Regions from separate parts of the Homo sapiens genome. Here regions 2 and 3 are each linked to region 1. The links come from fine-mapping of genetic effects on gene expression. A gene starts in region 1. Each other region holds a variant in brackets. All regions are shown on one strand. Distances are from middle to middle.

Region 1 (10,547 bases):
ATAGCCTGGGCGCAGTGGCTCACGCCTGTAATCCCCCCAGCACTTTAGGAGGCTGAGACAGGCAGATCACATGAGGTCAGGTGTTCGAGACCAGCCTGGCCAACATGGTGAAAGCCTGTCTCTACTAAAAATACAAAAATTAGCCAGGTACGGTGATGCATGCCTGTAATCCCAGCTGCTCGTGAGGCTGAGGCAGGAGAATAGCTTGAACCCAGGAGATGGAGGTTGCAGTGAGCCGAGATCCTGCCACTGCACTCCAGCCCAGGCAACAAGAACAAAACTCCTTCAAAAAAAAGCCAGTTACACAGGGCAGAACCACTTTGTGATGTAGATTTTATTGGCTATCTAGGCAGAGGAAAAATTGGACAATAATAGGAAAGGAATGAAATCTCCTGGGCTGGCCCAGCACCTGCTACTGGTGGATGAGAAATCAGACTTTGTGCAAAGGGTGACTTGGCCAGGAAGAACAGGAAGTTAGTCAGTATCATAGTCAGTTATTCAAGGAGAGGAAGAAAACAGGGAATGGGGGTGAAGAACGAAATACTCGAGTTATATAAACTTTGGTACTGTCCCAGGAAAAGAATCTCTCTTTTCCCCTAAGTCTTAGAAAGGGGAAGAACAGATGCTGTAGTCCAAGAATTGCACAAAAGTCAGCACCATTATGGCCTCTAGTTGCCCCCATTAGCCCAATAATATTCCTCTGCTAGAACATCCCTGTCTGACCCCTGATAAGAAAGCAGAGGGAGGTGAGTGGTGAAGCTGCCCCAGATTCTGTGCTCCAGGTGGAGAAGGCCTCAAGAAGGTGAAGGGATGAGCTAATCTGAGCCTCATGGCCCCATTTCCAAGGATGTGATTAGTGGAGAGTCACCTGGGACCTGCTCCATTTCAGGAAACCCGGTTATGGGAACTGGTATGGGACAGACTTTGCTCAGGACCCGAGAGAAGCAGTTAACCCTTTCCTACTGTCTGGATGGGAAACAGCTTAATAGTTGCTTGGTTCTTTCCCAGGGGAGGGAGTCTTCAAATGGACTTCCTTTTGCATCAGCTTGGAAAGGCGGACCTCAAGGATATTTTCTACTTAAGTTCCTAGGGTCAGCCTCTTTAGGGCATTTGAAAGCTCTAGGGGAGCCTAAGAAACAAGGTGGGGCCTTAAGAAGTGTCTAGGAGACACAGAGAGGGCACATTCAAAAGGAAAGCTCAACAGTCCCTAAAATGTCATTGTTCATCTGGCAGCACTCCCTAGGATGTTCTGGTTCCACTCAAACCCTTGAGTTTGGGTCAGAATCAGTCTTGGGCTCTTCTTATAGGGGGGCAGGGAGTGTGTCTCAGACAGAGGGTTTCTTTTTGGAATAAACAAGATATCCAAAGTAGACATGTGATATGGTTTGGCTGTGTGACCATCCAAATCTCATCTTGAAGTGTAGTTCCCATAATCCCCATGTGTCATGGGAGGGACCAGGCGGAGATAATTCAATCATGGGGGCAGTTTCCCTCATCCTGTTCTTCTGATAGTGAATTAGTTCTCAAGAGATCTGATGGTTTTATAAGGGGCTTCCCCCTTCACTGGGCACTCATTCTTCCCCTTCCTGCTGCCATGTGAAGAAGTATCTGTTTACTTCCCCTTCTGCCATGATTCTAAGTTTCCTGAGGCCTCCCTAGCCATGATGAACAATGAGTCAATTAAAACTCTTTCCTTTATAAATTACCCAGTGTCGGGTATGTCTTCATGAGAATGAACTAATACAACATGAAACAGTAATATAAATTCTGAGGTGGGTGCAGAAATGGAAGCAGAATCAATATGTCACCCAGTCTAAGGACTGGAAATAACTGGCTCCCTACAGACACTGCCAATAAATGAGACCTGGAAGGCCAGGGCTGAAAATATCGAGAGCCATACTCAAAGCCTCCTTGGTTGGCCTAGTTAACTAAGGTGACCTTAACCAAGGGCAGGTCATTTAGTTTCTTTGGGCTTCAAATTTCTTCATCTTAATAGATAACTGATAATTTCCAAAGTCCCTTCTGGCTCTAACATTCTAGTGTTCTGAGGATGAGGTCTGAGCAAAAAACCGTTTTTAAAATTTTAATTTTTTTTTTGAGACAGGGTCTTGCTCTGTCACTAAGCTGGAGTGCAGTGGCATAATCATAGCTCACCGCAACCTCCAACTCGAGGGGCTCGAGATCCTCCCACCTCAACCTCCCAAGTAGTTAGGACTGTAGGCATGCATCACTGTACCTGGCTAATTTTTAAATTTTTTTGTAGAGACAGGCTGTCACTATAATGCCCAGGTTGGTCTCAAACTCCTGGCCTGAAACAATCCTCCTGCCTTGGCCTCCCAAAGTGCTGGAATTACAAGCATGAGCCACCATGCCTGATTTATTCATACAACTTCTTCTTGGATTCTCATTTTTATCATTTCTAAAACAAAGATAACATCTTTCTTACAAGATTACAAAATTGGGAGAACTGCTTAAGATGAATAAGAAAAAGTGAAGAGCACTTAGCACAGAGTGGATTCTCACCATATATCAAGCCTATATTGCATGCTGCCTGAATACGTGGGTTTACGCTACGGAAGTCCTGATGGCAAACCCTCATATCGAAGGCTTCCCTCCTTGCTTCTCCCTATGTCCAGTAGGGAGGACAGCTGTGTCCCTGGCTACCTTTGAGAGGCCTCCACTGCCTCTAGGGTGGTATTGGGTGCTCCATTACACCTTTATCCCTGAAGTTCATTCCAAGGACAAGGGCTGAAAGCTAGAGGCTCATTTCCAAGGACAAGGGCTGGAAGCTAGGAAACCAACTCATCTTCATTCTCAATGCCATTCTCAAGGTGGAGCATTTTCTGCTGGGCCAACACTCACAATGATAATTTTTTTTTTTTTTTAGACAGAGTCTCACTCTGTCAGCCGGGCTAGAGTGCAGTGGTGTGATGTCAGCTCACTGCAACCTCCACCTCCCGGGTTCAAGCAATTCTCCTGCCTCAGCCTCCCAGGTAGCTGGGACTACAGGCACATGCCAACACGCCTGGCTAATTTTTGTATTTTTAGTAGAGGTGGGGTTTCACCATGTTGGCTGGGCTGGTCTCGAACTCCTGACCTCAAATGATCCACCCACCTGGGCCTCCCAAAGTGTTGGGATTACAGGCGTGAGCCACTGCGCCCGGCCACGATGGGAAATATTTTAAAGAACCATCCTCAATACCTTGGTTTCTCACCCATAAAATAGTGACGATAACAATTTTCTTACAAGATAGTTGAGAGGATGACATCATTTATGTAAAGAGCTAGTGGGGTCCGACAACAAGCAGTCATTCAATGTTACTGGTCCCTTCCCCTTGGCAACTCCTCTTCTGAAAAAGGACAAGAGACTGGGGGTGGGGATGGGGAGCTCTGCGGGGGGTGTGGGGGGAATGAAAGGAAGACTCCAATGATTCCTCAAATGCCAGCTGTTTATCAAGTTTGATGGTTACGATGGATTTTCCAGAAATAAAAGCTACCTTGCTCCAATAGGTCTACCTGTGAGCAACTGAGATGGGGAGGAATGGGGAGGAGCGCTGAGCATAGACTCGAGAAGGGTATGATTCAGGTCTCGATAGACAATGTTCTTTGGAGTAGCACCAAGGTTGTGTACTGGGCAGGCACTCTGCCAGCTCGCCAGCCTGTTCTGTCCAATCCTGGCGTCTTGGAGCTGGGGTGGAAGAATTTTTCCTGAAGGAAAGCAGCCAACACCCTGTCCCACCCTTCTCCTTGGGCAACTCTTTGCCAGGCAGGAATCTCTCATCAGGGTTTTCTTTTGGCTGTCAGATCACCAGCAGTTATAGGCTTAAGCCCCTGTCACCATGCCCCTCCCGGAACCTGGCAGAGAGCAGCAGCTGGGACTCTGCAGGACCTCCTTATTCCAGCCAGGAATGCACTTGGAAAACCCCAGAGCTTCTCCTGTCAGCCAGAGCCCAGAAAAGCCAGCTCCTGGTCTTGGCACATTCAGTGCAGTCAAACGTGGAAAGGGGCCTGGATAGGGAGGGGTCGACTCCCAGGTCCCACCTTTGCGGGGGAAGCTGGTCCCCCTGGATTAGGCTGGGAGATGCTTGGGGCTGGTTGTAAGGTAAAAGACGGGGGGTCGTTTTTTCTTTTTTTGAGACAGAGTTTCGCTCTTTTTGCCCAGGTTGGAGTGCAATGACGCGATCTCGGCTCACTGCAACCTCCGCCTCCCAGGTTCAAGCAATTATCCTGCCTCAGCCTCCCGAGTAGCTGGGATTACAGGCGCCCGCCACCACGCCCGGCTAATTTTTGTATTTTCAGTAGAGACGGGGTTTCACCATGTTGGCCAGGCTGGTCTCGAACTCCTGACCTCAGGTGATCCACTCGCTTCGGCCTCCAAAAGTGCTGGGATGACGGGCGTGAGCCACTGCGCCCGGCCCAGGGCGTCGTTTTTAATTTCAGATTAGTAATTTTTTAGTATATGTCCCAAAAATTGCCGAGATATGTGTATGGTTATAAAAAAAATTCGCTGTCTATATGAAATTCAATTTTAATTGGCCGTCTTTTTCTTTGCTAAGTCTGGGACCCAGGGCTTGGCCTGGGGCAGCCCCCGCCGCAGACAAGGCTGTTGGAGGGGTCACGAACCCGCTTGGTAGCCCCGCGCCGTTACCGTCGCCCCTCCCGGCCGAGGGAAGGGTCCTGGAAAGCGCGAAGGGCGGCCAAAGCCCGGATTAGGGCCAAGGGCCGCATCTCGCCGCCACCGTGGGAAACTATCTTTGAGAGGAGGGAGGAGTCGTGGCCTGGCCTCATTCCCGCTCACCTCCAGCCTTGGCCGCCTCTCGCGGGCTCTTCCCCGCCCCGAACCTCCCACCTGCGGGCCCACTGGCACCCGCGGCGCTCAGAGGCTCTAGGTGGCTCCCGGCGGCGGTTCGCGGTCTCGGGGCCCTGCAGCGTCGAGTGCGCAGGCGCGGCGGGCAGGTGGGCGGGGCGTGCGCGGGCGCAGGCGCGCGCGCGGGAAGGGATGGGCTCGCGCTGCCGGGCGTGGGCGTGGACTCGGGCGTGGGCACTGGCGGAGTTCCAAGCCCGGGCTGAGGAGGGGGCGGCGGCGGCGGCGGCGGCGGCGGGCGGGTACCCTTCGACTGGGCGTTGCCGCTGTTCCCTGCGCGGCATGGAGGGGACGGCCGTGGCCGTGTTCGAGGTGATGCTGGGAAGGGAGAGAAAGCGGAGGACACTTTCTGAGGAGACGGGCTTTGTGAGGAGACCGCGAAGTTTGGGCAGAGGGGTCGGGCGTCGCCTAAGGTGAAGGAGGAAGGTTCGGGAATCGAGGCCCGTCTCCCACGGGGAAGCGAGGAAGTAGGAGCAGATGAGGGCTCTCGCTCGCGGGGTACTCTGTGGGGGAACGACGCCCTCTCTCCAGCCTACGGCTCAGAAAGCTGCGGCGTTTGCCGAGCACCGGCGGACACCCAGGGGCAGAGCCTGACGCAGCCTCGGAGGTGCCTGCCGGAGCCCAGCGCCTTCCATGCACCGGGTGCTGGGAGGGGGCGCGGAAAGAAGGAAAGGAATGGGGCAAGCCCTGGCGTTGCGGGGCGGGGTGGGGGGAGTCGGGGCGCCAGGACAGAGGCAAGGAGGGACCCAGTGCAGACTGGGAGCGAGGGAGAGTTTTTTTAGGCCCCGGTGCAGGTGCAGGTTTCTGGGTTCGAAGCAGCTGGACGTGGAAGGGCGAGGTTCAGAGGCCACACCTGTGCTCGGGGAGCTGCTCTGGAAGACGGCACTGAGCGCCTGGCGCCGGCCACGCCCCGTGTGCTCATTTCATTACCCACTTTCACGGCCGGTGCCCAATGGGACGTTGAGCTGCTGTTTGTGAGGGGTACTGGGCAGGTGACAGAAGCACAGGCTCTGAGGGCACCTGAGAGAGTACCCCCGGGCGTCCTGCCTGTTTGTTGTCATCAAAGAAGGCGGCGGGATTCCATTTTACAAATAACCGAACCTAGGCTAGAACCCAGGGCGCTGACTCATAGGCCAGTGTTCTTTTCCCAACTGCGCTGTCATACCGACATGAGAATATCTTTAGGGTTTGTTTGTTTGTTTGTTTGTTTGTTTGTTTTTTGAGACGGAGTCTCGCTCTTTCGCCCAGGCTGGAGTGCAGTGGCGTGATCCCGGCTCACCGCAGTCTCCGCCTCTCGGGTTCAAGGGATTCTCCTGTCTCAGCCTCCCGAGTAGCTGGGATTACAGGCGCACGCCGCTACACCTGGCTCATTTTTGTATTTGTAGTAGAGACAGGTTTTCACCATGTTGGCCAGGCTGGTCTTGAACTTCTGACCTCAAGTGATCTGCCCGCCTCCGCCTCCCAAAGTGCTGGGACCGGCGTGAGCCACCGTGCCCGGCCCGATATGGGAATATCGTAACAGAGGACGTGTGAAGGAATAGTTAGACTCTACACGTACCTGGAAACCATTCTTGTTAACTGGTACAAATGAGGATCTTAGTTCCCAGATCTCCCTGCCTTTAAAAAGGGGGTAATAATTTTCCTTGTGTTGCCTCCCTGTAAAAGTGAGAATCTGTTTGCATGAATAATAATGGGAGTTGGCCGGGCGCGGTGGGTAGCCTGTATTCTCAGCACTTTGGGAGACCGAGGCGGGCAGATCACTTGAGATCAGGAGTTCAAGACCAGCCTGGCTAACATGAGGAAACTCCGTCTCTGAAAAAAATACAAAAATTAGCGGTGGCTCACGCCTGTAATCCCAGCACTTTGGGAGGCCGAGGCAGGCGGATCACCTGAGGTCGGGAGTTCAAGACCAGCCTGATCAAAATGGAGAAACTCCGTCACTACTAAAAATACAAAATTAGCCAGGTGTGGTGGCACATGCCTGTAATCCTAGCTACTTGTGGGGCTGAGGCAGGAGAATCGCTTGAACCCAGGGGGCGGAGGTTGCAGTGAGCTGAGGTCGCACCATTGCACTCCAGCCTGGGCTACAAGAGCAAAACTCCATCTCAAAAAAAAAAAATTAGCAGGGTGTGGTGGCAGGCGGCTGCACTTCCAGCTACCTGGGAGGCTGAGGTGGGAGGATCACCTGAGCCCGGGAGGTTGAGGCTGCAGTGAACCATGATGATGCCATCACTGCACTCCAGCCTGGGAGTCAGAGTGAGACTCTGTCCCCTCTCTCCCCCCAAAAATAAATGAAATATATTTTATTTTCAATTTGTCTCGAATAAATGTGTTTTTTTTTTTCTTTTTGAAACGGAGTGTTGCTGTTGCCCAGGCTGGAGCGCAGTGACCCAATCTTGGCTCACTGTGGCCTCCACCTCCCGAGTTCAAGCAATTCTCCTGCCTCAGCCTCCTAAGTAGCTGGGGCTACAGGCACACACCACCACACCCGGCTAATTTTTGTATTTTTAGTAGAGATGGGGTTTCACCATATTGGCCAGGCTGATCTTGAACTCCTGACCTCAGGTGATCCACCGCCTCAACCTCCCGAAGTGCTGGGATTACAGGTGTGAGCTACCACACCCGGTCGATTAAATGTTTTACCCAGACATCTTGGAGTCCTGTTCAACTTAAAATATTGTGTGTAGTCTTTACTGCATTAGAACTTAGAAATAATAGCTAATATCTGTTAAGCATTTGCTATTTGCCAAGTACTGTGTTAAGCATTTTGCACATATTTTTATTTAATTTTTTTTTTTTTTTAGTAGAGATGGGGCCTCACTATGTTTCCAGGGCTCAAGCGATTCTCCCACCTTGGCCTCCCAAAGTGCTGGGATTACAGGCATGAGCCACTGCGCTCAGCGTTGCACGTACCTTATTTGTTTACTTTCAGCAGCAGCCCTATGTGGTAGTTTTATCCCCATTTTAATAGATGAGGAGTCTGTGGTTTGGAGAGATTAAGTAATTTGCCCAAGGTCACATGCTAGAATTTGGCACATCAGGGATTCAAATCCAGGTGTGGAGTGCAGTGGCCTGATCAGGGCTCACTTCAGCCTCAATCTTATGGGCTCAAGAGATCATCCTGCCTCAGCCTCCCCAGTGGCTGAGACTACAGGCACACGCCACCACGCTGGGCTAATTTTTGTTGTTGTTAGTAGAGATAAGGTCTGCGTATGTTGTCCAGGCTGATCTCAAACTGTTGAGCTCAAGTGATCCTCTCACCTCGGCCTCCCAAAGTGCTGGGATTGCAGGCATAAGCTACCGCGCAGGGCAGCATTAGCACTCTTAAATAGTATTCTGACCCTCAAAAGTGTTGATTTAATGAAAGATCAAGATGATTCATAACCAGATGCCACTCTTATTCATAGTCTTCATGTTGGCTTTTATTTGGGGCAGGAAAAAAGAAACAAGAAAAACAAACTCCCACTTAATTTTTCCCTAATTATTATTTCCAGATGAATTTATCTTCTGAATAAAGGAATTTATTGTCTCAATTTCCTGTCTTACTGGGCATTATGTTGAATTTCACTGACTCTTTTCTTATGTCACTCTCCTAGCTATTTATTTTGTTTAGACACAATACTCTGAACAAACCTAAATCTGACATTTTAGAAGCAAGAATACAATTTTTGGGGGGAAATTAGAGTTACTAATTTAACTGGGTCATAGAGATGTATTATTACTGTGATTTCTAAAGAAGATTATGTTTTCTTTGAATTGTGCTCTTTTCAGATTTTGAGATTTTTAATAATTCACTGGAAGTGTGACATAGATGTATCAAAGGGAGCATTGCTAGAAGGGCAGCTAGTGATTTCCATAGAAGGATTAAATTCTAAGCACCAGGCAAATGCTCTTCATTGTGTAACAACTAGTAAGTAGAGAAAGAAAAAATATTTTCTATCTCTTTTGTCATGGTTTATGTCGTAGCTTATTTAAAAATTTCAATTAGAATCTTTTATCATGTTATTCCAGGATTGTTCCATAATTATAAAATGAAATGATTATGTAATAAGTGTCTGGTGGTAGATTTACAAATGTATCATACAGGAAAGGTGAGTAGTTGAATGACTCTTACCATAGATTATTTATTTTACTGGTTTAAGTTAAAATTGCTCAGAAACAATCTTATTTTTCTCTTGATTTTAATCTACTTTGTCACAGCTAAATTATATTACATTGAGCTTTACCTACTTTTTTTTTCCCAAGTCTAAATTTTGGCAGTAGCAAAAAAAAAAAAAAAAAAGGAAAAATGATGAATGGTGCATACTGTGATTAGTTTGAAAATATCTCTTCCATTTGGCTTTCATGCTTTTATCATTTTTGCCTGTTGTCTTTGAGGGAAACCTGATGCAGTGAGTGGCTCTGAAGCATGAATTTTCTTAAACTTGAAGTGTTAGCTTTTTGTGTGTGTGTGTGTGGTGTGTGTGTGTGTAGGTTTATTGAAGGGTACTTTGGATTGAAGTTGCCCCTTCAGGCTTAGAGAAGTCACTTGGGCACCAAGTTGAGATTGGATAGTGAACTAGGCTTTACAAGACATTTGCTTACCTGAACAGGAATGACCTGTCTTGTCTTTGTGTATTAATATTAAACATCTTCAAGAGCAGTATGACAGGTTGGTTTGCTCTTACTCTGCATGAACTGCACTCTGACTGGCAGGGTTCCCACCACTCTTGAGAGAAATGCTTGGCTACGTGTCTAGGGTGATGGTTGGTCTGTGTGTGGTTGTAATAGTCTAATCCAATAAACTCTGGCCAGGGTAGCAAGGTTGATTTAATTCAAAGCAAAGGACTTTAGCCACAGTAGTTTTTGGCAAGAAACTCGATTCTGCATTTTGAGCCTGATGAACTTCTTTAGCCCACCTAGAATAGGGGGCATTTCTCTTCTCTTTATTGTCTCTGAGCTTTAAGTAATTATGGTTATAATTATTTATTTATTTATTTAGAGATGGAGTCTCACTCTGTCGCCCAGGCTGGAGTGGCGCAATCTGGGCTCACTGCAACCTCTGCCTCCTGGGTTCAAGCAATTCTGCCTCAGCCTCCTGAGTAGCTGAGATTACAGGCAGCTGCCACCATGCCTGGCTAATTTTGTGTGTGTGTGTATTTTTAATAGAGATGGAGGTTTCACCATATTGGCCAGGCTGGTCTCAAACTCCTGACCTCAAGTGATAGTGATCCACCTGCCTCTGCCTCCCAAAGGGCTGGGATTACAAACGTGAGCTACCGCACCCAGCCTATGTTTATATATTTTTTTTGGGTAGGAAACGTGGTGATACATGCTTGATAAAAAACATTACAGAAACATATATTGTGGAGAGTGAGACTTTCTACACATCTCACGCCTTTGAGATGATTATTAACATTGAGTATATATTCTAGATTTTCCTTTTTCCCCCTACTTGCCAAGGATAATCTGTCTTCTAGATTTTTCTATGCCTACGTTCTTAGTTATCAATATCCATTTTTTAGAACTAGAACTATACTATACATATGACTGTGCTATGTACCAGTACTTTGTGGGCAGCATTTCATGTTAGCATAAGGGATCTATTTCATTTTTTTTGTAAAAAAATGTACACTTATTTAGTTTTAGTTTTTGTCAGTTACACACACATATGGTTTTGGCTGGGTGTAGTGGCTCATGCCTG
Region 2 (10,080 bases), 350 kb before region 1:
TCCAGCTACTTGGGAGGCTGAGGCAGGAGGACCACTTGAACCCGGGAATCAATGCAAAATGATTTATTATGTGATGACTTAAAATCTGTTGAAATGAAACTGATCTGTTTCATCTCCAAAGAGCAGACTGCAGAAATTTGAGAGGGACATCAGAGTTATGGTGAGAAACAGGTGGATGAGTGGCAGGACTCAATTACAAGTGGGATCATGCCAAGATAATTTTCCAGCTGAAGCAGAGGAGAAACATTCCATTGACCTACAGATGAAGCCAAGGTTGGTGATTCCCTTGGAGATGCTAGCAGCTCTGTTCTGGACTTTATGTCAAAGAAATCATATTGTATGTTTCTTTTGCTATTTCCATGCTTAGTTCATTGGGGAAAGTACAAAAGAAATTGCACCATGGCGAAAGCCATTTGAAGTTAGATGAGAAACAACAGCTAAACTCTTGGAATATCTTTAGGAAACGCAGACGTGATGAGGAGGTCTTTCAACCTCAGTTTTCTAACACATCCGAAAGCCTTTGCACCACCTGGGAAGCCTCCTCTCAGGGAACAATAAGACATAGTCGTAACTCATAGGAATTTCTTCTGTCTCCAGAGCCTGAATCCTCTGAATTATTTTTTAAACTTAAACTTGCACGTACAAAGTTTTTGTGGTGACAAAAAGAATTTTCTTTCTTTCTTTTCTTTCTTCTCTTTTTCTTTCTCTCCCTCTCTCTCTCTTTTTTTTTTTTTTGAGACAGAGTCTTGCTCCGTCGCCTAAGCTGGAGTACAGTGGCACAATCTCAGCTCACTGCAACCTCTGTCCCCCGGGTTCAGGTGATTCTCCTGCCTCAGTAGCTGGTATTATAGGTGTGCACCATCATGCCCGCCTAATTTTTGTATTTTTAGTAGAGATAGGGGTTTCATCATGTTGGTCAGGCTGGTCTCGAACTTCTGACCTCGTAATCCACCCGCCTCGGCCTCCCAAAGTGCTAGGATTACAGGCGTGAGCCACCGCGCCCGGCCTCTTTCCTTTCTCTCCCTTCCTTCCTTCCTTCCTTCCTTCCTTCCTTCCTTCCTTCCTTCCTTCCCTCCCTCCTTCCTTCCTTCCTTCCCTCCTTCCTCTCTTTCTTTCTTTTCTTTCTTTCTTTCTCTCTCTTCCTTTCTCTCTTTCTCTCTCTTTCTTCTTTTTTTTTTTTGAGACAGAGTCTCACTCTGTCGCCCAGGCTGGAGTGCAATGGCGCAATCTCAGCTCACTGCAACCTCCGCCTCCCAGATTCAAGCGATTTTCCTGTCTCACCCTCCCAAGGAGCTGGGATTACAGGCGCCCACCACCACACTTGGCTAATTTTTATAGTTTTAGTAGAGACGGGGTTTCACCATGTTGGTCTTGAACTCCTGACCTCAGGTGATCCACCCGCCTTGGCCTCCTAAAGTTCTGGGATTACAGGCGTAAGCCACCACGTCCGGCCAACACAAAGACTTTCATGTTATTTCTGGAATAAGAAAAACAGCTACGGAAAAAATATATCAACAGCATACTGTATACAGCATTTTTTTTTAAATGGAGATTAATGAATCGTGAAAATAATATGTAAGGCTGGACACAATGGCTCATGCCTGTAATCCCATCACTTTGGGAGGCCGAGGAGGGAGGATCATTTGAGCCCAGGAGTTTGAAACTAGCCTGGACAACATAGTGAGATCCTGTCTCTGCAAAAACTTTAAAAATTACCTGGGCATGGTGGCATGCACCTGTAGTGCTAGCTACTCAGGAGGATGAGAAAGGAGGATTGCTTGAGCCCAGGAGTCTGGGGTTGCACAGAGCTATGATCCTGCCACTGCATTCTGCCCAGGTGACAGAGTAAGACCCTGTCTCTAAATTTAAAAAAAGAAAAAAATAAAGACAAGAAAATAACACGTAAATGGTGAGCTAAACCAGATTTCTTGAATCAACAGTGCTTGTCAGTGATTTTCGCTTCCCCATTCTATGTGCTTTTGTTCTTTTTTGTACAAAGAGATTGTTCTCTGATGTCATTTATGTAATTAAAAATAAATGAATTAAAAACCAAATCGAGAACATTTTCTATTTTTAAAATCAGAAGAAATAACATTTTTACATTTCTAATTAAAACTGTAAGTACGCCGGGTGCAGTGGCTCACGCCTGTAATCCCAGCACTTTGAGAGGACAAGGTGGGTGGATCACTTGAGGTCAAGAGTTCAAGACCAGCCTGGCCAACATGGTGAAATCCCACCTTTACTAAAAACACAAAAATTAGCCAGGCGTGGTGTTGGGCGCCTGTAATCCCAGCTACTCAGGAGGCTGAGGCAGGAGAATTGCTTGAACCCACGAGGCGGAGGCTGCAGTGAGCCGAGATCACGCCACTATACTCTGGGCGACAGAGGGAGACTCCATTTAAAAACAAACAAACAAAGAAACAAAACAAACAAAAAACCTCTAAGCGCATATTTCTAATACAAACCCTAATCTAGACTACAAGTGAACTGTAATCAAAACAGTGGAGTATGAGACAGCAAATCTACTTGTAAGCACTATATGAATGATACTTTTACTTTCTTGAGACAGAGTCTCACTCTGTCGCCCAGGCTGGAGTGCAGTGGCTCAATCTCGGCTCACTGCAAGCTCCACATCCCGGGTTCACGCCATTCTCCTGCCTCAGCCTCCTGAGTAGCTGGGACTACAGGAGCCTGCCACCACGCCTGGCTAATTTTTTGTATTTTTAGTAGAGACGGGGTTTCACCATGTTAGCCAGGATGGTCTCGATCTCCTGACCTCGTGATCCTCCTGCCTCGGCCTCCCAAAGTGCTGGGATTACAGGCGTGAGCCACCGTGCCGGGCCTACAAATGATACTTCTAAGAGAAAACATAGGAGAAAATATTTTTGATCTAGTTAAGGGACCATTTTCTTAGTTATGACACCAAAAAGCATGATCCATAAAAGAAAACATTATAAATTGGAATTCACCAAAATTAAAAACTTTAACTCTTGGCCGGGCACGGTGGCTCACGCCTGTAATCCCAGCACTTTGGGAGGTCGAGGCGGGCAGATCACGAGGTCAGGAGATCGAGACCATCCTGGCTAACATGGTGAAACCCTGTCTCTACTAAAAATACAAAAAAATTAGCCGCACTTGGTGGCATGAGCCCGTATTCCCAGCTACTCAGGAGGCTGAGGCAGGAGAATCGCTTGAACCCGGGAGGCTGAGGTTACAGCGAGCCGAGATCGCGCCACCGCACTTCAGCTTGGGCGACAGAGCGAGACTCCGTCTCAAACAAAAACAAAAACAAAAACTTTAGCTCTTTAAAAAACACTGTTATGAATATAAAAAGACAAGCCACAGACTGGGAGAAAATATTTGCAAAACATATATCTGACAAAGGACTTGGACCTAGAATATATTAAAATAACTCATATAACTAAGTAATAATAATTCAGACAACCTCATTTTTAAATGGAGATGATTGGCTGGGTGCGGTGGCTCATACCTGTAATCCCAGCATTTTGGGAGGCTGAGGCTGGTGGAACACTTGAGGTCAGGAGCTCGAGACCAGCCTGGCCAGCAGGGTGAAACCCCGTCTCTGCTAAAAATACAAAAAATTAGCAGGGTGTGGTGGTGCGTGCCTGTAGTCCCAGCTATTTGGGAGGCTGAGGCAGGAGAATCACTTGAACCTGGGAGGCGGAGGTTTCAGTGAGCTAAGATCACACCACTGCACTCCAGCCTGTTGACAGAGTGAGACTCTGTCTCAAAAAACAAAATAAAACAACAACAAAAAAACGAGATGATGTGAACGGACACCATACCAAGGAAGGTATATAGATGATAAGTTAGCAAATAAAATATGCTCAATGTCATTGGTCATTAGAGAAATGCAAATTTAAACCACAATGACTTACCTGGCAGGGGAGATGCCATGATCACATAGGTGGTTTTCCCAGGGTGAGGTGCATCCATTGCACTCCAGGTGTGCTAACCCTTGCAATTTC[C/A]CTCAACGTGGGAAACTCAACTGCGTTGTTTGTGGCAGTGGGGGACTGCATTTGCGCTTTCTCCTGTGTCAACTTTCTTTTTTTTCTTTTCTTTACTTTTCTATTTTTTTTTTGAGATGGAGACTTGTCCTGTCGCCCAGGGTGGAATGCAGTGATGCGATCTCGGCTCACTGCAACCTCCACCTCCCAGGTTCAAGCGATTCTCCTGCCTCAGTCTCCTGAGTAGCTGGGATTACAGGTGCGCACCACCACACCTGGCTAATTTTTTGTATCTTTAGTAGAGACAGGGTTTCACCACATTGGCCAGGCTGATCTCGAACTCCTGACCTCGTGATCCACCTGCCTCAGCCTCCCAAAGTGCCAGGATTACAGGCGGGAGCCACCATGCCTGGCTTACTGTGTCAAATTTCTTTTTTTAAATAATGCAATGAACTACCACTTACTCGCCTATTAGAATGACTGAAATTAAAAAGACTGACTATACTGAGTGTTGGCTATGAAGGAGAAACTAGAGCTCTTATACTCTGTTGATGAGAATGTAAAGTGGTACATTTTGGAAAAACAATTTGGCAGTTTCTGAAAAAATTAAGCACATACTACCACATGACTCAGCGTTTCACTTCTAGGTATAGTTCCAAAGAAATTAAAGCATAGGTCCAAACAAGGACTTGTACAAAAATATTCATAGTAGTTTTATTTGTGATGGCACAAAACTGGAAACAACCCAATGTCCATAAATAGGTTAAGGGATAAACAAATCACAGGAATACTTTTCACAATTTAAAAGCAATGATGCCGGGCACAGTGGCTCATGCCTGTAATGCTAGCACTTTGGGAGGCCCAGGCGGGCAGATCATTTGAGCCCAGGAGTTGGAGACCAGCCTGGGCAATATGGCAAAACCCCATCTCTACTAAAAATACAAAAATTAGCTGGGCATGGTGGTGGGTGCCGGTAATCTCAGCTACTCAGGAGGCTGAGGCATAAGAATCGCTTCAGCCCAGGAGGCAGAGGTTGCAGTGAGCTGAGATTGTGCCGCTGCACTCCACCCTGGGTGATAGAGTGAAACTGTCTAAAACATAAATAAATAAAAGTAATGAACTATTGATACATACACAGCATGGGTGGATCACGAAATACTAATGCTGAAAGAAGCAGATTCCCCCCTCAAAAAAAATAGTATGCATTGTATAATCCAATTCATATAAAATACTAGAAAATGCAAAATAATCTATAGTGACAAAAGGCAGGTGAGTGGTTGCTTAGAGATAGGGCTGGGCAGGGGGTAGACGAAGGATTACAAACAGTCAAGAGGAGGCTGGGCATGGTGGTTCATGCCTGTGATTCCAGCAGTTTGGGAGGTAGAGGCAGGAGGCTTGCTTGAGGCCAGGAGTTTGAAACCACCCTAAGCAACATAGTGAGACCCCTCTCTACGAAAAGTAAAACAATTAGCTGGGTGTGGTGGTGCACGCCTGTGGTCTCAGCTATTTGGGAGGCTGTGGTTGGAGGATCACTTGAGCTTGAGAGTCTGAGGCTCAGTGAGCTTTAATCGCACCACTCCACTCCAGCCCGATAAAGGGAGCAAGACCCTGTCTCAAAAAAAAAAAAAAAAAAGTCAAGAGGAAACTTTTGAAGGTAATGGATATGTTCATTATCTTCATTGTGGTTACAGTTTCATGGGTATACACATACGTCAAAACTTATCAAATTGTACTATTTATTTATTTATTTATTTATTTATTTATTTATTTATTGAGACAGAGTCTGACTCTGTTGCCCAGGCTGGAGTACAGTGGCACGATCTCGGCTCACTGCAACCTCCGCCTCCCAGGTTCAAGTGATTCTCCTGCCTCAGCCTCCTGAGTAGATGGGTTCACAGGTGCACACCACCACGCTCGGCTAATTTTTGTATTTTTTTTTTTTTTTTAGTAGAGATGGGGGTTTCGCCATGTTGGCCAGGCTGGTCTTGAACTCCTGACCTCAGGTGATCTGCCCGCCTCGGCCTCCCAAAGTGCTAGGATTACAGGCGTGAGCCACCGCGCCTGGCCAAATTGTATACTTTAAATATGTGTAGCTTATTATTCACATGAATTAATACTATCAATAGGTAGGGACTGGGCATGAAGAAAACTGGTATCCCCTGGTAAGGTCATTATATACTTCAATTGGCATATAATTTGAAGGTGCATGATACTTGGAGTTATCTGATTCCTTTTAAAGTTGTCATTTGAATTCTTGAGGTTTCCAGACTTTCCCATCAATGCCCTAGATTTCACAGAAAAGACTTGGAAATAGTATGAATTTAACTTATTTGTTAATTATACCTTTGATTTGCAGCTGCAGCAGCCCTGTGGTTAGAGGGGTAAGAAATTCTCATACGGCAGGCATGCGAAGTACTTGGTGCTCTGTGTCTTGAGCCAAGCATTTAATGACCTGAGCTTTTCTTTCTTTTTTTTTGAGATGGAGTCTCACTCTGTTGCCAGGCTGGAGTGCAGTGGCGTGATCTTGGCTCACTGCAACCTCTGCCTCCCGGTTTCAAGCGATTCTCTTGCCTCAGCCTCCCGAGTAGCTGGGACTACAGGTGCGCCACCACACTCAGCTAATTTTTGTATTTTTAGTAGAGACGGGGTTTCGCCATGTTGGCCAGGCTGGTCTTGATCTCTTGATCTCTTGATCTTGTGATCTGCCCCCCTAGGCCTTCCAAAGTGCTGAGATTACAGGTGTGAGCCACCGTGCCTGGCCAGAGCTTTTCATTTTCTTTAAACTCTCCAGGGTAGTTAAAAGCATCAGCTGCTCCTCAAAATATATTTATTAATTGCAAAGAGAAACGTAGTTATTTTGCAGTGGAGGAACTCAGAGCAAACACTGCCTTAACCAAGCACTCAAGGTTAAAATCACCAGTTTAAAGACCAGGCATGGTGGTGGATGCCTGTGGTCCCTGCTATTTAGGAGGCTGAGGTGGGAGGATTGCCTGAGCCTGGGAGGTCGAGGCTGCAATGAGCCTAGATTGTGCCACTGTACTCCAGCCTGGGCAACAGAGTAAGACCCTATCTCAAAAAAAAAAAAAAAGTTTGTTAAGTCACTAAGTTTGTGGTAATTTGTTACAGCCAACCTTATGGTTTACAGTGTGGCCCAGACTGAGAAAAGATTCTCCAGCCAAACCAGGCTGCAGTCTAAGCAATCCTCTTCTTGTCTCTTATTACTCTGTGGAGCCAATGACACCAGATGGAGAAACTGTATGGAGCTCAGGGAAAGGCTGTATGGGAGAATTGGAGCACGTGCCCTGTGTTTTGTTGGTTTTATTTGGTTTTGGTGGGGTTTTATTGTTTTCTTTTTTTTTCTTTCTTCTTCTTTTTTTTTTGAGAGAGTCTCACTCTGTTGCCCAGGCTGGAGTGCAGTGGCATGATCTCAGCTCACTGCAACCTCCGCCTCCTGGGTTCAAGAGATTCTCCTGCCTCAAGCTCCCGAGTAGCTGAGATTACAGGTGCCTGCCACCACACCCAGCTAATTTTTGTATTTTAGTAGAGACAAGGTTTCACCATGTTGGTCAGACTGGTTTCGAACTCCTGACCTCAAATGATCTTCATGCCTCGGCCTCCCAAAGTGCTGGAATTACAGGTGTGAGCAACTGTGCCTGGCCTGTTTTTTTGTTTTTTGTTTTGTTTTTGTTTTTGAGACAAGATTTCACTCTGTCACCCAGGCTGGAGTGCAGTGGCACATCATAGTTCACTGTAGCCTCAACCTCCTGGGCTCCAGCAATCCTCCAGCCCAAACCTCCTGAGTGGCTGGGACTCCATGTACACGCTGCCACACCTGGTTAATTTTTAAATTTTTTGTGGAGATGAGTTCTCACTATGTTGCTCAGGCTGGTCTTGAACGCCTGGGCTCAAGCGATCCTCCCACCTTGTCCTTCCAAAGTGCTAGGATTCTAGGTGTGAATCACTGTGACTGGACTCCCTGTCTTTTTTTTTTTTTTTTTTTTTTTAGTTAAACTTTTTTTTTTTTGAGACAGAGTCTCACTCTGTTGCCCAGACTGGAGTTCAGTGGCACAATCTCAGCTTGCTGCAACCTCCGCCTCCTGGGTTCAAGCAATTCTCCTGCCTCAGCCTCCCAAGTAGCTGGGATTACAGGCGCCCACCACCACACCCGGCTAATTTTTGTATTTTAGTTCAGACGGGGTTTCGCCATGTTGATCAGGCTGGTTTTGAACTCCTGACCTCAAGTGATCCACCTGCCTCGGCCTCACAAACTGCTGGGATTACAGGCGTGAGCCACCACGCCTGGCCGTTAAACTTTTTATTTTGGGATAATTGTGGATGTACATGCAGTTCAAAGAAATAATACAGAGCGATCCTTTACCCAGTTTTCCCCATTGATAATATCTTGCAAAACTATAGTACAATATTGGCCGGGCACGGTGGCTCACACCTGTAATCCCAGAGCTTCGAGAGGCCGAGGCCGGGCGCTGTGGCTCATGCCTGTAATCCAGAGTTTGAGAGGCCGAGGCCGGGCGCAGTGGCTCACGCCTGTAATCCCAGCACTTTGAGAGGCCGAAGCCGGCCGCGGTGGCTCACGCCTGTAATCCCAGAGCTTTAAGAGGCCGAGGCGGGTGGATCATGAGGTCGGGAGATCGAGACCAGCCTGGCCAACATGGTGAAACCCCGTCTCCATTAAAAATACAAAATTTAGCCGGGCATGGTGGCGCGCGCCTGTAGTCCCAGTAGCTACTCTGGAGGCTGAGGCAGGAGAATTGCTTGAACCCAGGAGGCGGAGGCTGCAGTGAGACAAGATCGTGCCACTGCACTCCGAGCCTGGGCGACAGAGCGAGACGCTGTCTCAAAAACAAAACAAAACAAAAAACTATAGTAAAATATCACTACCAGGATATTGACATTGACACAGTCAAGATACAGAACACTGCTATCACTTCAAGATCCCCCATGCTGCCCATTATGGTCATACTCACTTTCTTTCCCCATTCCCCTCTCCTTCCCCACATCCTCAACCCCTGGCAATCACTAATCAGTTTTCCATTTCTATAACTTTGTCATTTCAAGAATATTATATAAAAGGAATCATAGGCTAGGTGTGGTGGCTCATGCCTGTAATCCCAGCACTTTGGGAGGCCGAGGTGGGTGGATTACCTCAGGTCAGGAGTTCAAGACCAGCCTGGCCAACATGGAGAAACCCCATCTGTACTAAAAATACAAAAATTAGCCTGGCATGGTGGCGTGTACCTGTAGTCCCAGCTATTAAGGAGGTCAAGGCAGGAGAATCACTTGAATCTGGGAGGTGAAGGTTGCAGTGAGCCAAGAGCCAAGATCGAGCCACTACACTCCAGCCTCAGCAACAGAGCAAGACTCTGTCTCAAGAAAAAAAGAAAAAAAAAAAGGAATCATACAGTATTCAACATTTTGGGATCGGCCTTTTTCACTTAGCAGCATCCACTGCAGGTTCATTTAGGTTGTTCTGTGTGTCAGAAATTCATTCCGTTTTTTTCTTTTTTTTGAGACGGAGTCTCGCTCTGTCGCCCAGGCTGGAGTGCAGTGGTGCCATCTCGGCTCACTGCAATCTCTGTTTTCCAGGTTCAAGTATTCTCCTGCCTCAGCCTCCTGAGTAGCTGGGATTACAGGCACGCACCACCACGCCCAGCTAAGTTTTGTATTTTTATTTATTTATTTTTATTTTATTTTATTTTTTGAGTAGGAGTTTCACTCTTGTTGCCCAGGCTGGAGCGCAGTGGCACGATCTCGGCTCACCACAACATCCACCTCCCAGGTTCAAGCGATTCTCCTGCCTCAGCCTTCTGAGTAGCTGGGATTACAGGCGTGCACTACCATGCCCTGCTAATTTTGTATTTTTAGTAGAGACAGGGTTTCTCCATGTTGGTCAGGCTGGTCTTGAACTCCTGACCTCAGGTGATCCACCTGCTTCGGCCTCCCAAAGTGTTGGGATTACATGCGTGAGCCGCCGCGCCCGGCCTAAGTTTTGTATTTTTAGTAGAAACGAGGTTTCACCATGTTAGCCAGGCAGGTCTCGAACTCCTGACCTCAGGCGACACACCTGCTTCAGCCTCCCAAAGTGCTGGGATTA
Region 3 (10,547 bases), 57 kb after region 1:
GCTCACTGCAACCTCTGCCTCCCAGATTCAAGCCATTCTCCTGCCTCCGCCTTCCTAGTAGCTGGGATTACAGGTGTGCACCACCATGCCCGGCTAATTTTTGTATTTTCAGTAGAGACAGGGTTTCACTGTGTTGGCCAGGCTGGTCTCAAACTCCTGACCTCAGGTGATCCACACACCTCAGCCTCCCAAAGTGCTGGGATTACAGGCCTGAGTCACCACACCCAGCCAAGGCAATCTTAATGTTGGTTATGTGTTATAGCGAGAAACCTCTGGATAGAGAGAGCTTTGTTTTGGGTTATTTTCACTTTTTTTTATTGCTTTATTGTATCACTTTAGATACCTCTTCCCTCCTCTGTGCTTTGTTTTTTGTTAAAGCTAGATAATAAACCTTGCTGTTTATCTCCTTTTCTAAAGTGACTATAAGAACAAATAAGGACTTTTTTTTTTCCTGAGACAGGGTTTTGCTCTGTCACCCACGCTGGAGTGCAGTGACTTGATCTCGGCTCACTGCAGCCTCTACCTCCAAGGTTCAAGTCATTCTCCTGCCTCAGCTCCCTGAGTAGCTGGGATTACAGGTGTGCACCACCACACCTCGCTAATTTTTGTATTTTTAGTAGAGATGGGATTTCGCCATGTTGGCCAAGCTGATCTTGAACTCCTAGCCTCAAGTGATCCACCTGTCTCAGACTCTCAAAATGCTGGGATTACAGGCGTGAGCCATCATCATGCCTGGCCAAGAAATTTTGATAGAATATTTTGAATATTAGAGAGCTAAATTTTTTATTATCTGTAGTTAGATATGTTTATAAAGATAAACACTTAAGCATATCTATGACATCCCCCTTCTGCCATCTTCCTACTTTTTGCCTATTGTTTCAGTCACTATTCTAAGTGCTCTTTGTGCACTCGCTCACTTAACTCTTACAACACCCCTTGTGAAGTAAGTTTTATCATCATCATCCGCATTTTGTAGCTGAGAAAACTATGGTACAGAGAGTAAATAACTTGAAGAGTCAGGATTTGAACTCAGGCAGTCTGGTTCTAGAGTCACTTCTTACCTTATGTTACACAGAAAGAAAAATATAGGTGAATGGAGAGAATAATTAGAACAGTGAGGTACACTGGAGAGGATATAAAAGTCAGATGGAGAAGAGGAAGAAAAAGCAAAGAAAAAAGCATGGAATGTTCCACATATGAAAATAATAGAAATAAAAATGGATAGTTCCTTTAAAAAGGAGGTGAAGGGGCTGGGTGTGGTGGCTCACACCTGTAATCCCAGCACTTTGGGAGGCCGACTTGGGCGGATTGCTTGAGCTCAGGAGTTCCAGACCAGCCTGGGCAAGATGGTGAAACTCTGTCTCTACTAAAAATACAAAAATTAGTCGGGTGTGGTTCCATGCACCTGTGGTCCCATCTACTTGAGGGGCTGAGGCAGGAGAATCGCTTGAACCCAGGAGGTTGAGGCTGCAGTGAACCGTGTTTACACCATTGCACTCCAGCTTAGGTGACAAAGTGACTCTGTCTCAAAAAAAAAAAAAAAAAAAAAAAAGTTAAGGGATAGGGGTTGAGAGAATGGCAAAGAGGCAGGGATGATTTCTGATAATTTGTGACAACCTGGAGCTGTGATATAGGGCTCAATATATTTAAGATTTAGAATTTAAACACAGGCAAGCATTAAGTATGTTTAGGGAAAATACAAGTGATAAAGAATGTATTTTTTGGCCGGGCGTGGTGGCTCACGCTTGTATCCTAGCACTTTGGGAGGCCGAGGTGGGTGGATCACAAGGTCAGGAGATTGAGACCATCCTGGCCAACATAGTGAAACCTTGTCTCTACTAAAAATACAAATATTGGCTGGGCACAGTGGCTCACGCCTGTAATCCCGGCACTTTGGGAGGCCGAGGTGGGCAGATCACCTGAGGTCAGGAGTTCGAGACCAGCCTGGCCAACATGGCGAAACCCCGTCTCTACTAAAAATACAAAAATTAGCCGGGCATGGTGGCGCACGCCTGTAATCCCAGCTACTCAGGAGGCTGAGGCAGGAGAATCACCTGAACCTGGGAAGTGGAGGTTGCAGTGAGCCGAGATTGTGTCATTGCACTCCAGCATGGGTGACAGAGCAAGACTCTGTCTCCAAAAAAAAAAAAAAAAAAAAATACAAATATTAGCTGGGCATGGTGGCGCGTGCCTGTAGTCCCAGCTACTCAGGAGGCTGAGGCAGGAGAACTGATTGAACCTGGGAGGTGGAGGTTGCGGTGAGCTGAGATTTTGCCACTGCACTCCAGGCTGGGAGACAGAGTGAGACTCCATTTCAAAAAAAAAAAAAAGAATGTCTTTTTCCTGGCTGAGCACGGTGGCTCATGCCTGTAATCCCAGCAGAAGTAAAACTTTGGGAAGCCGAGGTGGGTGGATCACTCACTTGGGTGGTCAGGAGTTCAAGACCAGCCTGGCCAACATGGCGAAACCCCATCTCTACTAAAAATACAAATATTAGCTGGGCACAGTGGCGCGTGCCTGTAGTCCCAGCTACTCGGGAGGCTGAGGCAGGAGAATTGCTTGAACCCAGGAGGCGGAGGTTGCAGTGAGCCGAGATTGCGCCATTGCACTCTGCACTCCAGCCTGGGCGACAGACTGAAACTCCGTCTCAAAAAAAAAAAAAGTCTTGTTTCTCTAGGTTCATCCGTGTCACAAATGACAGGATTTCCTTCTTTTTAAAGGCTGACTAGGCTGGGTATGATGGCTCATTCCTATAATCCTAGCACTTTGGGAGGCTGAGGCAGGAGGATCACTTGACCTTGGGAGTTCAAGACCAGCCTGGGCAATATGGTGAAACCCTGTCTCTACAAAAAAATGCAAAAAGTAGCTGGGTGTAGTGGCACATGCCTGTGGTCCCAACTACTCAGGAGGCTGGGGTGGGAGGATCACTTGAGCCTGGGAGACCAAGATCACACCACTGCACTCCAGGCTGGGCAACAGAGCAAGACCCTGTCTCAAAAAAAAAAAAAAACCACAAAAAACTAACTGTATTCCATTGTGTATATACCACATTTTCTTAATCAACAGAAAGACAAATACTGTATGATTTCACTTATATGTGGAATCTGAAAAAGTCAAACTCATAGTAGAGAATAGAATGGTGGTTACCAGAGGCTGGGAGTGGGTTAAGGAAGGAAATAGGGAGTTGTTAGTTAAAGTGTACAAAGTTTCAGTTAGACAGGAGGAATAAGTCTTTAGAATCTTATTTCACAGGGGGGTGACTATAGTCAATAATAATGTATTATATATTTCAAAATAGCTGAGAGTAAATTTCAAATGTCTTACCACAAAAAATGCTAGTAAGTTATGTGATAGATGTTAATCTACTTGATTTAATCATTCCACATTATATACATATATCAAAACACCACATTGTACCCTATGAATGTATACAGTTATAGTTTATCAATTAAAAGTAATGTTAATTTAAAATTTTTTAAGCTTATTCTTTTCCTTTAGGGATTAGATATGGAAGTTTTTAATCTGTATCTTGGCTCATGTTAAATCTCACACTTAACTTATTGTTTTGCAGGTCAGATTTCATTTCAGTGTAAAGGTAAATGGAATCCTCTCCACAGAGATCTTTGGGTAAGTTCTTAGGTCTATGGCTTAAGATGATGCTATGGCTCTGCAATTTTTCTCAGCTATTATTGTCCTATTTCCAAAAGGTTCACAGTTTGATATCTTGACCCAAAGTCACCTTGAAACTAATTTTCTGACACCCCCACATTTTATTATTTTAGTAGATTCATCCCTGTCTCTAGAGGGGGTAAACTTAAAGATTGCCATTTTCCCCTTGGTTAATTAGTTACTGAATTCTAGTAATCGCTGGGGTGGTAGTAGTCATGGGCCAAAATTTATGTCAAACAGAGATTGATTTTAGAATCTTTGAGAGATGGCTTAGCTTTGCTTTGCTTTGCAGGGTGGAGAATGAACCCACTTTGAACCTTGGGAATGGAATTGCTCTTTTGGTCGACTCCCAGCATTATGTGAGGTGAAGGCGTAAAGCCTTGTTGTCCCTCTGCATGTTTTACTCTCCTCTCGAGTACGAATGTGGGTAGAAATTGGAAATTGTCTCACTTGTCATTTGTAAGTGCCAGGTGTCAGCTTCTCTATAAGAAAAGCAGAAGTAAAACTTTTTTTTATGTTGAAAACTGCTATTTTAAGTTATTTATGTATTTGAATCTATTCTAAATGACCTGAAGACATGTGCCTTCTTCTCTTCAGGCCTTATTTTACACAGACCCTGCTAGTTCCAATCCCATTTAGGCATGAGAAGAGAAGACTATGAATTTAAAACTTTACTTGAATTCTTGGCTAGAGAGATAGTATGAATACAAAGGAATTCAGTGTACATTATTTTCTGTGCATCAGCATTTTGCATAGGTTTGGAAATCATCTCTCTGCCCATCTCCATCTTCTTCAGACTCCAAGAAAGTAAATCTGGCCAGGCGCAGTGGCTCATGCCTATAATCCCAGCACTTTGGGAGGCTGAAGTTGATGGATCACTTGAGGTTAAGAGTTTGAGACCAGCCTGGCCAACATGGCAAAACCCTGTCTCTGCTAAAAATACAAAAATTAGCTGGGCATGGTAGCACATGCCTGTAATCCCAGCTACTTGGGAGGCCAAAGCATGAGAATCACTTGAACCCAGGAGGTGGAGGTTGCAGTGAGCCGAGATCACGCCACTGCACTCCAGCGACAGAGCAAGACTCTGTCTCAAAAAAAATAAATAAATAAAAAATGTAAAAAATCCATGGAGGAGGTGGTAAACAATATGGAACACACAGAGCCCTTCTGTCTTGCCTTCCTGTGCCATTTAACTACCACAGAATCCAAAGTGAAAATGAATTATGTCAAGAAAAGACCTAACATATGCTTAAGTCCAATTAATTTATTTTTTCTTTTTTTGAGACAGGGTCTCAGTCT[G/T]TTCAACCCAGATGCCATCATAGCTCACTGCAGCCTTGGTCTCCTGGGCTCAAGTCATTTTCCCACCTCAGCCTCTCGAGTAGCTAGTAGCTAGGACCACAGAAATATGCTACCATACGCTGCTAATTTTTTTTTTTTTTGAGACGGAGTCTCGCTCTTTCGCCCAGGCTGGAGTGCAGATCTCACCTCACTGCAACCTCCACCTCCCTGGTTCAAGCGATTCTCCTGCCTCAATCTCCTGAGTAGCTGGGACTATAGGTGCATGCCACCACGCCCAGCTAATTTTTTTGTATTTTTAGTAGAAATGGGGTTTCACCATGTTGGCCAGGATGGTCTCAATCTCCTGACCTCGTGATCCTCCTGCCTCGGTCTCCCAAAGTGCTGAGATTACAGGCATGAGCCACTGCGCCCAGCCCATATACTGCTAATTTAAAAAAAATTTTTTTTTGTAGAGATGAGGTTGTTGCCTAGGCTGGTGTCAAACTCCTGGACTCAAGCAATCCTCCTGCCTCGGCCTTTCAAAGAGCTGGGATTACAGATGTGAGCCAATGTGTCCAGCCCTAATTTAGTCTTTATTCATTAGTTTCTGCCTCTATTTATGTGCCCAGAGGCAACACTAGTAGTCAAAGTCTCTTAAGGCTTAAAGAGACTGCCTGTGGTTCTTAGTCTGTTTTCTTATTCTCACCCAAAATTACACCTCAGATGAGAATATTTTTGTCATTTAATATGCAGGTAATAATTTCCCCACCCCATATCTTTCTTTAGTGATCCTCTAATAATAAACAATCCTTACAGGTAGCAGCTCATCATCATAGTTGTACTGACACAAGTTTAAGCCTTTGAGCCAATTTTTGTAGATGTGTTTCCTTGGATGACCTGATTAGAGACAAAGGGAAAGGTTCATTAATATTTCCTCTCTATTAATTAATTCATTCATTCTTAATCAGCTTTCTCAGGTTGACTGTTTTCTCTCTGTTTAGAAAAGAGCTATTGGAAAGTAACAAAATTTTACTAGATTCTTTCTAGGAGAGAAAGATGGCCTGGTTTTTTCTCATTGTTACTATCAAACAGCAACCTCAGACCTCTTCAGCGGAAGGTGTAGCATGCGTGAGAGCAGACTTATAAGTATCATGGGGCCAGTTTTAGGCCATTTGTGATTCATGGGCCCCCTCACACAATGCTGACCTTTGAATGAATTTGGAAATTTGCTCAGAACCAAAGATTAATTTTAGTGGAGGAAGTATACTTGAGAATAAGAAACAGGCTGGTCATGATATCTCACACCTGTAGTCCCAGCACTTTGGGAGGCCAAGGCAGAAAGATTGCTTGAGGCCAGGAGTTTGAGACCAGCCTAATAAACATAGTGAGACCCCATCTCTAATAAAATAAAATAATAGTAATTATTTTTCGAGACAAAGTCTCGCTCTGTTGCTCAGGCTGGAGTGCAGTGGCGCAATATCAGCTCACTGCAACCTCCGCTTCCCAGGTTCAAGCGATTCTCCTGCCTCAGCCTCCTGAATAGCTGGGATTACAGGTGTGCACCATCATGCACAGCTATTGTATCTTTAGTAGAGATGGAGTTTCACCATGTTGGCCAGGTTGGTCTTGAACTCCTGACCTCAAGTGATCCACCCACCTCAGCCTCCCAAAGTGCTGGGATTACAGGCATGAGCCACAATGCCTGGTCTAAAATGTTTTTTTAAAAAGAGAAACTAAGAAGCATCCGTTAGTGGCAGCAAAAGCAGGAGCAATGATATCTCTGAAATGCCAGTTTTTCTACTACTTCCATTGCTGTGATTCCCTGAGTGAGACATAAGTTATTTATTCCAACAAAACTGATATGGCAGGTTGTGTGGTTGTACATATGCTAGAGGTTACAAAAATAATTTTGAATGCTCTTTTAAATAATTTCTTAAGAGGAAAAAATGTTAAATTTGACTTGTCTGTTTTCTGACAGTAGACCAAATTTTGGTACAATTGAATCACACTGCAGCAGAATTCACCCTGTGCTAGGACATCCAGTAATGCTTTTCATCCCTGAAGACGTGGCTGGCATGGACTTGTTGGGAGAACTGATACTGACTCCAGCAGCTGCACTGTGCCCCAGCCCAAAGGTTTCTTCCAACCAGCTTAACAGGATTTCTTCAGTTTCCATATCCTTTTGATGAAAAGTTCCATCCAATTATCTTTGAAATGGGTTTTTATATCCCAGTTTTAGGAAAGCCTTTAGTATGTGAATTCTGCATCTACAAATATATATGATTTGTATAAAAACATATAATCTAATGTGAAAGCCAAGCTTGAAAATTTTGCCAGGGAACTGAAAACTGTAAAATGTGACACATGCCATGCGTTTTTCATACAATCCAATATGACTGAAGCATGAAATGAATGGTGCACGAGGAAGAGATGGGACTAGAAAAGTAGTCTGGAGTTGAATATGGTAGATCTTGAGTGCCATACTAAGGATTGTGAATTTTATTCTCTGTATAGTAAGAAACCATTGAATGTTTTGGGAGAAGTCTTTAGCAGCATTATAGAGTACGGATGGGAGACAGAAGTTAGTAATACTAAGTAAATAAGTAAGTGAACTGGATTAAAAATAATGAGTGCTTGACGGCTGGGTGCAGTGGCTTACACCTGTAATCCCAGCACTTTGGCAGGCCGAGGTGGGCGGATCACTTGAGGTCAGGGGTTTGAGACCAGCCTGGCCAATATGGTGAAACCCTGTCTACTAAAAATACAAAAATTAGGCCGGGCGTGGTGGCTCACACCTGTAATCCCAGCACTTTGGGAGGCTGAGGCGGATGGATCACAAGGTCAGGACTTGGAGACCAGCCTGGCCAACATGGTGAAACCCCATCTTAGTAAATACAAAAATTAGCTGGGCATGGTGGCAGGCGCCTGTAATCCCAGCTACTCAGGAGGCTGAGGCAGGATAATCACTTGAACCTGGGAGGCAAAGGTTGCAGTGAGCCGAGATCGCAGCCACTGCACTCCAGCGTGGGCAACAGAGTGAGATTCCGTCTCAAAAAAATAAATTAATTAAAGCCAGGCGTGGTGGTGTACGCCTATAGTCCCATCTACTTGGGAGGCTGAGGCAGGAGAATCACTTGAACCTGGGAGGTGGAGGCTGCAGTGAGCCAAGAACACGACACTGCACTCTAGCCTCGGTGACAGAGCAAGACTCTGCCTCAGAAAAAATAAAAATAAAATAACAATAATAATGAGTGCTTGAATCTAAAGTGTGGTAGGCACGGAAAGGCCAGACTTATCACCTGAATTAATCAACAAAATGTGGTAACCAGTTCATTATTAAGGTAGGGAGAGATTAGGGGCAGGGAATGTCTAAGGTTGATGTCAGATTTCTATTCTATGTCTGTCTAGAATAGGCAAATACAGAGAGAAAGTTGATGGAGGGGCTTTTTTGTTTTTTTTTTTGGAGACAAGGTCTGGCTCTGTTGCACAGGCCAGAGTGCGGTGACACAATCTCAGCTCACTGCAACCTCTGCTTCCCGGACTCAAACCATCCTCCCACCTCAGCCTCCTAGAGACCACAGGTGCATGCCACCATGCCCAGTTAATTTTTGCATTTTTGGTAGAGACAGAGTTTCACCATGTTGCCCAGGCTGGTCTCAAACTCCTGGACTCAAGCGATCCACCAGGCTCGGCCTCCCAAAGTTTTGGGATTACAGGCATAAGCCACTGTGCTCGGCCTGGAGGGGCTTCTTTTCAGAGTAATGAAAGTGTTCTAAAATTGATGGTGGTAGTGACTGCACAACTCTTTGAATATTCTAAAATCCATTTTATTACACATTTAAAATGAGTGAATTGTATGGTATGTGAATTGTATCTCAATAAAGCTATTTAAAAATATTTCCATGAATAACTGACAGAATAATGATACTTTCAGCAAGATAAAAAAACATTAATAGCAGATTTAGGAGATAAAGAAGATGAGTTTGACATTAAACATGTTGAGTTTATGGTGTCTCAAGACATCCTTTGAACATAGTAAGGAGCTATATAGGAATTTGGTCTGGAACTTGGAAATGGTCAGATTTAGAGATACAGAATTTTAGAGTCTCAGTTTCCTCCATAGGTAAGAGTCGTGTAGTGCTGTGTTTAGAGCATGGCACAGGAGTGTAAATGTTGGATTCACTACTAATTAGCTGTGTGACTGTAGGCAACTCACTTAACCAGCCTAAGCCTTTACTTCCTCTGCTTTAAAATGAGGATGATACTTATCTCATAGGTTTAGTTTCCCTTGCAAAAATTGGTTTTCTGTTCTTTTGGGGTTTGTTTGCTCGTTTTAGAATTAAGTATAATAATCCATGTGAAGCTCCTAGCATATAATGAGTACTCAATAATATTAATAATTGTTATTGTCATATGATTGAAGCTATAGGAGTAAATGAAGTTATAGAAAATTATAAACAATGAGAACAGGCCGGACACGGTGGCTCATGCCTGTAATCCCAGCACTTTGGGAGGCCGAAGCTGGCGGAGCACTTGAGGTCAGGAGTTTGAGACCAGCATGGCCAACATGGCAAAACCCTGTCTCTATTAAAAATACAAAAATTAGCTGGACATGGTGGCACATGACTGTAGTCCCAGCTACTCGGGAGACTGAGACAGGAGAATTACTTGAACCCAGGAGGCAGAGGTTGCAGTGAGCACTGCATTCCAGCCTGGGCGACAGAGCAAGACTCTGTCTCAAAATAAAAAAAAAGAGAGAACAGAAGAGGCGTGGTATGATAGATGTCAGCTATCTGATGTTGCATATCAGATATCAAAAGATACCATAGTATCTTTTAGGGAGGTGGAGGGAGCAGGATAGTGATGAAGACTATGCTTGGACATTTTCTATTTTAAAACATGCTTTTTCTTTATATCTAGATAGTACAGAACAGTATAGAATAAATAAGTTTCTTCTTCTTCCTCATTCCATCATCTAGAAGGGATAAGACAGACAAATTTTTTGTCCTCTTGGGGAAAATTTAACAGATAGATATTAGGTAGTGATAAGTGCAGTGGAGATAAATAGAACAAAGTAGTAGAGAATGATGGAGATGTTATTTTAAATATGGGCAGTGAAGCCTCTAAGGAGGTGATGTTTTAAAAAAGAGAGAGAGCTAGCTATGAAAATTCTGTTGAGATTTTACTTTCTGAAAGTGGCAAACTTGATAATTTAGACCAACCTTCTCAATGAAGGCAAAGGCTAGATGAAATATTAAAACATCATAAAAGCAGGCCGGGTGTGGTGGCTCACGCCTGTAATCCCAGCACTTTGGGAGGCCAAGGTGGATGGATCACCTGAGGTCAGGAGTTCGAGACCAGCCTGACCAACATGGAGAAACCCTGTCTCTATTAAAAATACAAAATTAACCAGGCATGGTTGTGCATGCCTGTAATCCCAGCTACTCAGGAGGCTGAGGCAGGAGAATCTCTTGAACCTGGGAGGCGGTGGTTGCGGTGAGCCGAGATCGCGCCATTGCACTCCAGCCTGGGCAACAAGAGTGAGACTCCATCTCAAAAAACAAACAAACAAACAAAAAAATCATAAAAGCATCAAAGAG

What was found.
Region 2: its variant is fine-mapped to the expression of TOP6BL in pancreas (GTEx, PIP above 0.99).
Region 3: its variant is fine-mapped to the expression of TOP6BL in whole blood (TOPMed, PIP above 0.99). The same link has a PIP of 0.9 or more in lung and nasal epithelium.

The regions. Positions count from the first base shown.
Region 1 is chr11:66,739,744-66,750,290 of GRCh38, forward strand. TOP6BL (TOP6B like initiator of meiotic double strand breaks) reads left to right here and starts at 5,026. Exons shown (of 15, transcript NM_001302084.2): 1 at 5,026-5,176. It also overlaps a transcript of SPTBN2 not described here. RefSeq lists enhancers at 4,253-4,753, 5,245-5,354, 5,795-5,884 and silencers at 4,715-5,104, 5,515-5,614.
Region 2 is chr11:66,389,558-66,399,637 of GRCh38, forward strand. It overlaps the pseudogene BRD9P1 and the pseudogene RNU1-84P. Among named protein-coding and RNA genes, the nearest start is that of SLC29A2, 23 kb to the left of the region's middle. The variant C/A (reference allele first, on the strand shown) is at 3,990.
Region 3 is chr11:66,797,070-66,807,616 of GRCh38, forward strand. TOP6BL (TOP6B like initiator of meiotic double strand breaks) reads left to right here. Exons shown (of 15, transcript NM_001302084.2): 5 at 3,572-3,627; 6 at 3,962-4,033; 7 at 6,926-7,121. Among named protein-coding and RNA genes, the nearest start is that of RCE1, 41 kb to the right of the region's middle. The variant G/T (reference allele first, on the strand shown) is at 4,969.